Linked DNA regions of Homo sapiens. The protein of the gene in region 1 purifies or fractionates together with the protein of each later gene. This does not show direct contact. Each region holds a gene or a part of one and is shown on either strand. Other genes may lie near its edges.

Region 1 (3,650 bases):
CAAAGGCAGCATCTCTGTGTTATGAGAACCCAGAGCCAGGGTGTGCACCTCCTCTTCCCAAACCCCTGTCTCAAAACAAGGATTGAGGGCTGGTTACTTCCCTGCCATCCATCATCATTTGCACAGGAGGCCAGAGGCTGTGCCATGAAGTCTCCACCCTTGCTTCCGGTACTGCTGTTGTTGCTTTCCGTTTATGACAAAGGATGCCAAGCCAAACCAAATCTGAGAGACCCAACTAGGTCTTTGGTCTTATCCGTTAGTTGCTTTTTCATCGCTGTTTTATCTCCAGCACCTAAAACAGTGCACCGAACGTAGTAGACACTCAATAAACACTTGGATGTGATTGAACCCGTGGGCAAATAAACAACCAGATGGATTTGGTGTTAGGGTGAGAGTTTGGTGGCGCTTCCAAGATGAGCAAAGGAAGCACCACTAGCGAGTGAATTTGAATGAGGAAGTAAAGCCAAAACCAGCAGTCTTTTGATCAGTCTTTTCTTATCGCAAAGGGCAATACTCTCACTGAAGCTAAAAAAAAAAAAAAAAATCAAATTTAGTAACCTAAGATGTCCTTAGTAACAGAGCTGAAGAATGTGTTTTCCAATATTTGATTTCTTAGCTTGACAGTCTCTCTTGAAATACGCTCTTCTCCGCAATGAAAATGTGAATCTTTGTTGGTTTGTTTTGCAGTTTGCAAATGACTTACAGAGCTCTTCTGGCAGGGTTTCTGTTTCTCCACTTGCAAATAAACAAAAGGCCATTTCTCTAATATGACTTAAGTAGGGGAGATTCTGTGATCTCCTGTCATGATTTTAGAAGCAGTAGAAAAGGAGAAGAGAAAGGAGGGGCAAGTAGAAAGAAGAACAAGAAAAACCGAAACAGACAGCTTATAGAAGCTGAGAAAAAAAGCAGGAAATAGGCAAAGATAAATTTGATATGGAAAATTAGAGTGTGAGAGATACCAAATAATGGAAGACTCTGTAATTAATAGGATCCCAGAGAACCTTTTGGGGAGGGCTGAACTCGCCCATGGTCCGTTGGCCTCCCTCCCCGCTTCCATCCCATCAGCTGGGCTCCTTGTGAACTGTGAAGACAGGCTCTCCCCTCCTTCTCCTAGGCAAGCCTGCATGAAGCAGAGCAACCCCTGCCAGCTTGACCTAGATCTGTCAACTGATCAATTATTTTTCCCATAGAGGAGAAGGAAAAATGAAAGGAAAACAGAAAAAGGGAAAGAGAAAAAGAGAAGGTGAAGAACAGAGAAGTAGGGGGAGTGGGCAGAAGGAGAGAAGGAGGGAAGGAGGGAGAGAGAATGGGAAGGAAAATGGATGCAGTCCTATATCTTTTCAGTTTAAGCAGTGGTAGCAAGAGCAGGCTTAATCCAGAGGGTTGCATAAATAAAGACATACATACATACATACATGAAAGAAAAAATAAAGTTCTCAGAGGTTACCGACCAAAATCAGTCAAAGCAGAAGCCAGAGCTCTTTTTTTCCCACCCTTTGCCAATCCAGATTAGAGCTATTTTTTCTGAAACTCCTACCTCCAGCTCCATCCTCCCTAGTGCTCCCCCTCTCCACCATTCACGCTGCAGTCCCACACTGAAGCCTCCTTTTGCAAAGGGATGGGAGGCATGCTCCCTGCAAGTGCCTTCTAAAGCCCTTCTGCCCTTCCCCAGTGCACTCTCTGATAAGATGAAGCACCCTCCGGCAATGGGGAGGTGATGCTTCTAGGAACACTAGGATGGTACCCTTTGACCCTTCCAAACTGTATGCCATCGACTTCTTTATTACTGCATGCTTTCTTTTTTTATGTTTAATTGGTTTTATTGAATTTCAAATGACTATAGACATAAAGTAAACATGTAACAAGACAATAGAGCAGAAAGGAAGTAAACTGCATAAATATAATCTCAGCATGGAGTTCCACTTAGCACCACATGTTTGGAGTGTTACAAGCATTAATGAGTCCTTACAACACCCAGGGGAGTCGCTCCCCGGCCTGGTGGGCAGGTGGGGAGATAGGCCCGCAGAGGGAGAGATTTTTCCCTACAGAAAACAGAGAAATTTGAGCTTAGATGTACATGTCCCCCATGGAGCTATGTTCAGACCACTAGAAATGGCTTGAAACCTGGAGACCACGCATATTGGGTGTGTGAAGCATTTGTAGGATCTCTGCTGCAGCAAGAGAGAGAGCAATGTGGGTTTTTTGTTTGTTTGTTTGTTAATCTTTAGCATTCTAGTTTGTGAGCAGAAGCAGATCATGAGCTTGAATCCAAAATACTAGGAAAAAAGCCAAATCACAGACCTGTTCATCCTACCCAAAGTGTGCCTCTACTATGATTGAATGGCAAGAGCATTACAAATCTCTCCAGCATGTGTTTTCTGTACACGTCAGAATCATGTGCCCCATATTGATTCAGAAATTCTGCCATTTCTTGGGATGTTGAGAGAGCTCACTTCATCCCAAGGGACAAGTTTTGGCTAAAATCAACACCAGGTTGTTTGGCCCATCAAGAAAAGGAGCCACTATCAGCCTGGCAGACAGTACGCAGGCAGAGAGCAGAACCCAGGGAACTGCCAGGAGGCAATCTAGACCCTATCACCTCAGGCAGGGAACCAAGAGACACACCTGAAGACACTACGCAGGACGCCTGAATTAAAACCAGCGCTATGGAAGGAGGTTACTGAGAAAGAACAGAAGTCAGGGACTGTACATTGCAGCTGATAAGACGAGATCTGGGGGCTTATATTTGGCTTTAAGGGAACCAAAAAAGGGAAGAATCAGGACCAGGACCAGGCTCTGTGCCTGGTAACTAAAGCTGCAGTTTCAAGAATGGTCTTCATGCAGCGAGACCTGCCGGCCAGGGCAGACACTCTCCAGGCACGCTTGAGCGAATGCTCAGACGGCCATCCCCATTGGTGGGGTGGCCTCCTAATACAAAGGGCGGAGGTGAGCTACATTTGTGCCACTGTGCACGCCTTGCCAGGAACTTGCCTCAAGTTGGCAGCCCCAAGCCTGGCAGGCAGGTTCCATTCGATGAGGCTCCCTGACGCCCTCCCCTTACTGCCATGCTTCCAAGAGCCCACAATGCCTATGTCAGGCCCAGGGTCCCATCATCCCAGGCTGATGTTTCCACTTTGCCAGTAGATATTGCTATGGTCTCGTCTGCCACCCCTGAATATCAGAAGCATTGCCCAGCTCAAGCTGCTGCTGGCACCACGTGTGTACTGTGCATGGCAGGAACCTGGCCGGCCTGCCCAGCCGAACGGCGCCCACCGCCCACCTCCCGGGTGCTGCGCGAAGGGGAGTGTGAACTTTGCCGAGGCACCTTTTCCTTCTCCTCTGCCCTGTCTGTGTCTCAGGCTAGCTGCTAAGCGGATGCGGGATGTGAGGAGAGGTGAGGAAATGAGAAAGGTAAGAGAGGAACCTAGCCAAGCAAATCTGAAGGTGTTAAAAGAAACAATAATCCTTCGAAGGAGAAATGGTCGGTTTTCTAGAAAGAGGAAGCTGCAGCACAAGCAGCCATTCCTTTCAGAGGCTCTCAGTGGCAGAAGGTGGGCGGTGGGTGTTCTGCAAGGGACAGCGCCTGATCCAGTTCTGTAGCGTCTGCTCCCGGCAACGAGATGCCTCCACTTAATCAACCCTGGTGTATC
Region 2 (3,650 bases), on another chromosome or scaffold:
TCCCACCGTGGCATCTCTGCCTTCCCGAGGCTGAGGGAGGCTGGCTGACGTAGAGGTGTGGGCTGGAGCCTCCCCTTGCTCAGGGAAACCCTCCCCTCAGAGCCCTTCTGTGCCCTGGACAGTTCTGTTCACCAGTGACTGGGAAAGGGCTGAGAGAGGAGGGGGGTTTGGGTTCTGATCTGTTAGTGCTGAGGGAAGGGCTGGATCAGCCTGCAGCTCCTGGGCTCACCAGGACAGGAGGAGAAAGTGGCCCCCACAGAGGTCCCTACCCTGCTTCTGAGACACTGAGGTCAGAGTTGGGGCTCAGGGTGATGCCCAGAACAAGAGACAGATGCTGGAGGTAGGGGCCCCAGTATAGCTCAAAGGCCTTAGGCTGCTCTGACAAGCCTTCTCCCTGGGACAGGGAGCATCAAGGGACCTGAGGACTGCCTGGTGACTTCCCGTAGCTCCTCTCCCTCTTACCCTGACCATGGCCTTCCTGTTCCTGGCTTTGAGGTTCTGGTTATTGTAGAGCAAAGAGTAGATGGAGACCTGGGGACCAGGGCCTGATTTGGCTGCTCACAGTCTGGGCTGGGTGGAGGTTGCTAGGAATGCAGAAGTTAGCAGCAAATCATGAGCAGTGGGTGCAGAGTAGTTGCCCCAAAATCCCCCCACCCTGCATTTCCCAACGCCACTTCCTCTCAGTCAGGAAATGGAGAGATTTGCTATTGTCCCTGGAGCAAGAGAAGATTGTAGCGGCTCTGAGAATCCCGTGCCTTCCTCTTTAAGCCCAAAGCTCCCTCTGCCCCCAAGATCAGGCTGTTCCTCGTCCTCTGTGGAAGGAGCAGAACTAGACTACAGTGACCATCGCCCCCCAGCCTGGGCAGGAGCATATGATGCTTGTGACAGGGACTCCTACCAGTCCCCCCTACCAATAGATCAGACATGGGTGGGAGGTGGTTAGAGTGGCAAGGTTGACAAAAGGACCCTGACAGTGTGGCGGGCAGTGGGGAGCTCCTGGAGAGCCCTCTCTGGAGCTTTCAGGAAGGGTCCCTGGCCCTGCAGCCTCCCTGCACATGCATCACAGTCCTGTGTGCTCTCTTCCCCTCTCACACAGGGTGCCCACACTGTAAGAAGGTCATTCCGCACTTTACTGCTACTGCTGATGCCTTCAAAGATGACCGAAAGGTAAGGACAGCGCTCTTCATCTCTTGATCTGCCTGCAGCTAATTCCTACACCTTCCTTCTTGTCATTCAGGTCCTTCCCCAAACAGGGGCAGGTCTGCTAAGACCTGTAAGCAGGAAATTCCTTGGGAACCAGGACATTCTCTTTAGAAGGAAGATAGGGCAGGCTGGATTTATGCTGCAAAATCAACTAAAAGGGATATGCTGAACCATTCCAGCACTTACTTGGAGGAGAGGGATGGTTAAAGGGGTCATCTATTTACTTTTTTAGTGTTTGAACCTTTTTACTGTAGGATTGTCATCATGCATTACTTATATAATTAAAAATACAAATTTAAAAATCCAACAAAAGTCAACTGGAGGATGCCATGGTGGAGGAGAGCAAGGCCATGTCAGTGGAGCCTCGCCCTGCCTAAGTGAAAGGCTCCTGCAGCTGCCGACTGATGAAGCATAAAATTAACAAGCTAGAGCTGCAGATTGGATTAGAGTGCAGGGCCTCCAGGCGCGTCCCCCAGGCACATCCCCCAGGCAGCTGGTGCAGTGGGGGCTTCTGCTGGGAGAGGGCTTGTGGGGCAGGGAAATACCCCTGAATTCGGGGAAGTGTGATTGACTGCCAGCCTTTGAGTTCCCTTCTCATCCATGCCAGGCGGAGCACTGGTGCAGAGGACTGCAAACATTCCTCCCAGCCCTGAGACTCAGTCATGGGAACCTCTGGCCTAACAGGCCCTAGAAGCTGGCAGTCACGTGGGATCTGCATTCACACACACCCAAACCCAGAGTCACGTGCAGGGGTGCCTTACTTTCCTGGGTGGAATCCCAGGTGGGGCCAGGGCAGGCTGGAAGGAACCAAGGCCAGGCATAAGCTGAGCATAGAGTCCTAGATGATAAACAGGCCAAGCAGGCCTAGACGGAAGTTCAGCCGAGGCAGGAAAGGGGAGCAGGTATTAGTGGAGCAGCCCTCACAAGCAGAGACAGATGACCATCCCAGGGCCGGGTGGGCAGGGTTTGAAGTTTTGATCAAGGCCAACAGGAGGTCAGGCCTAAAGGTACCATCCAGACCTTGTGGGAGCAGAGATACAGGTGCTAGGATCACCTTAACAGGCCCAGAGACAGTGGCAGAGATGGGGTAATGAGAACTTTACAGGGACATAAAGCCAAAGGAAGCCAGGCTGGGGACAGGCCCATGCAGGCAGAGTGGGGATGAACTGGGAACCTGATTCTCACTTAGACCCAGAGCCCAGGACTCTCTCTGGAGTCAGGAGGTCCCATTGTTACCCGAAAGCCCTGGCTGCGGCTTTGAGGCACCCCTCACCCCCACCAGAAGGGAGTACAAGGACCAGAAGCGTTTTCTCCTCTGCCTGCCCCTTTCCCTGCACTGAGTGGGGTATGGCAGCAGGGGCTTCCTTCCCGTGTCCATGTCCCTCATTGTTCCCACCCACTTGTGCACAGCACAGGGTAGTTGCTCCTGCTTGGTGGTCCCACGATATCCAGCATGGCCTGGGCTGCCAGTCCACAGGACCGGAATAGCTGCCACTCTGTATTGACGTCCATCACGTGCCACCCAGAATGCTGGGTGCTCTGGGCAGCAGGAGAAAGGCTGAGGTGTGCCATCTCCCTGTCCCACTGGACACTCAGGTCTCCATAGGCCCCAGGAGATCTGTGAGGGTCCTGAGGCATGACTGGCAGACAGATCCTGGGCTTGCCCTCCCAGCCATGCTGGGGAGCATGGTGTCAGGGAGCGTGGTCCAGCTGAGGCACCGAGGGGGCTGGGGAAACCCTGAAGGGGCAGCCCCATTGACGTGGCCCCTTTCTGCCCACTAGACCGCCGCTGAGGCTGTCCTGTGGCCTGACCCACATCAGTGCAGGTGAGGCCAGACTTGCCAGGCCTCCAGCGGGCAGCTGAGAGCCCACGTCTTCTCTTCCCATTCCCCCTGCACTGCTACATGGGGGCCCATTTCCTTGATGCTCCCCTCCGCTTAGACACTGACACACCTTTGCTTGATTGTCTTGGGCCAGTGGTGTTGTGGCCTTTTCCTGGGTTCAGTCCTCCTGTCTCTTATTCCCTCTGTCTCTCCTTTCAGCTTCCTTTATTCCAAGCCAGGGATCACCCTCACTTGCATTCAGGAATGCACTTCATAACCTCTCTGTCTGAGGCAGGTGGCCTGCCTGGGTTTCCTGGAGGTTATATTCATGACATCAGGGAAGCCAGCCATCTGGCCTGGGGGGCTGAACTTACTGGTGCCCACTCTGTGCTCCAGGCATGGCACTGTGACTACTGGGTCCCATCCTACAACTATCAGATCAGAGTCTCTGGGGGATGGTGCTGGAAATTTGTGGTTTTTAAGAGCTGGCTCTTGTGCTGGCCACAGGCTGGTGTGTGGGGACTGTTGGCCTGTCCCCTCTCCCTTTACTCGTGAGGGATCCAGGCCCAGAGAGGAGCTGTGTCCCTTGTTCAGGAATGCCCAGCGGGTCACTGACAGCCAGAA

Evidence for each region. The genes of interacting proteins can lie anywhere in the genome.
Region 2: the proteins of NTM (region 1) and PDIA5 purify together in Homo sapiens (affinity purification with mass spectrometry, with the first as the bait; one large-scale study listed by BioGRID). This does not show direct contact.

What each region holds. Positions count from the first base shown.
Region 1 is NC_000011.10:131,373,562-131,377,211, reverse strand, and holds part of NTM (neurotrimin isoform 9 precursor), read right to left. Parts: intron 1-3,650.
Region 2 is NC_000003.12:123,153,875-123,157,524, forward strand, and holds part of PDIA5 (protein disulfide-isomerase A5 precursor), read left to right. Parts: intron 1-1,096; coding exon 1,097-1,167; intron 1,168-3,650.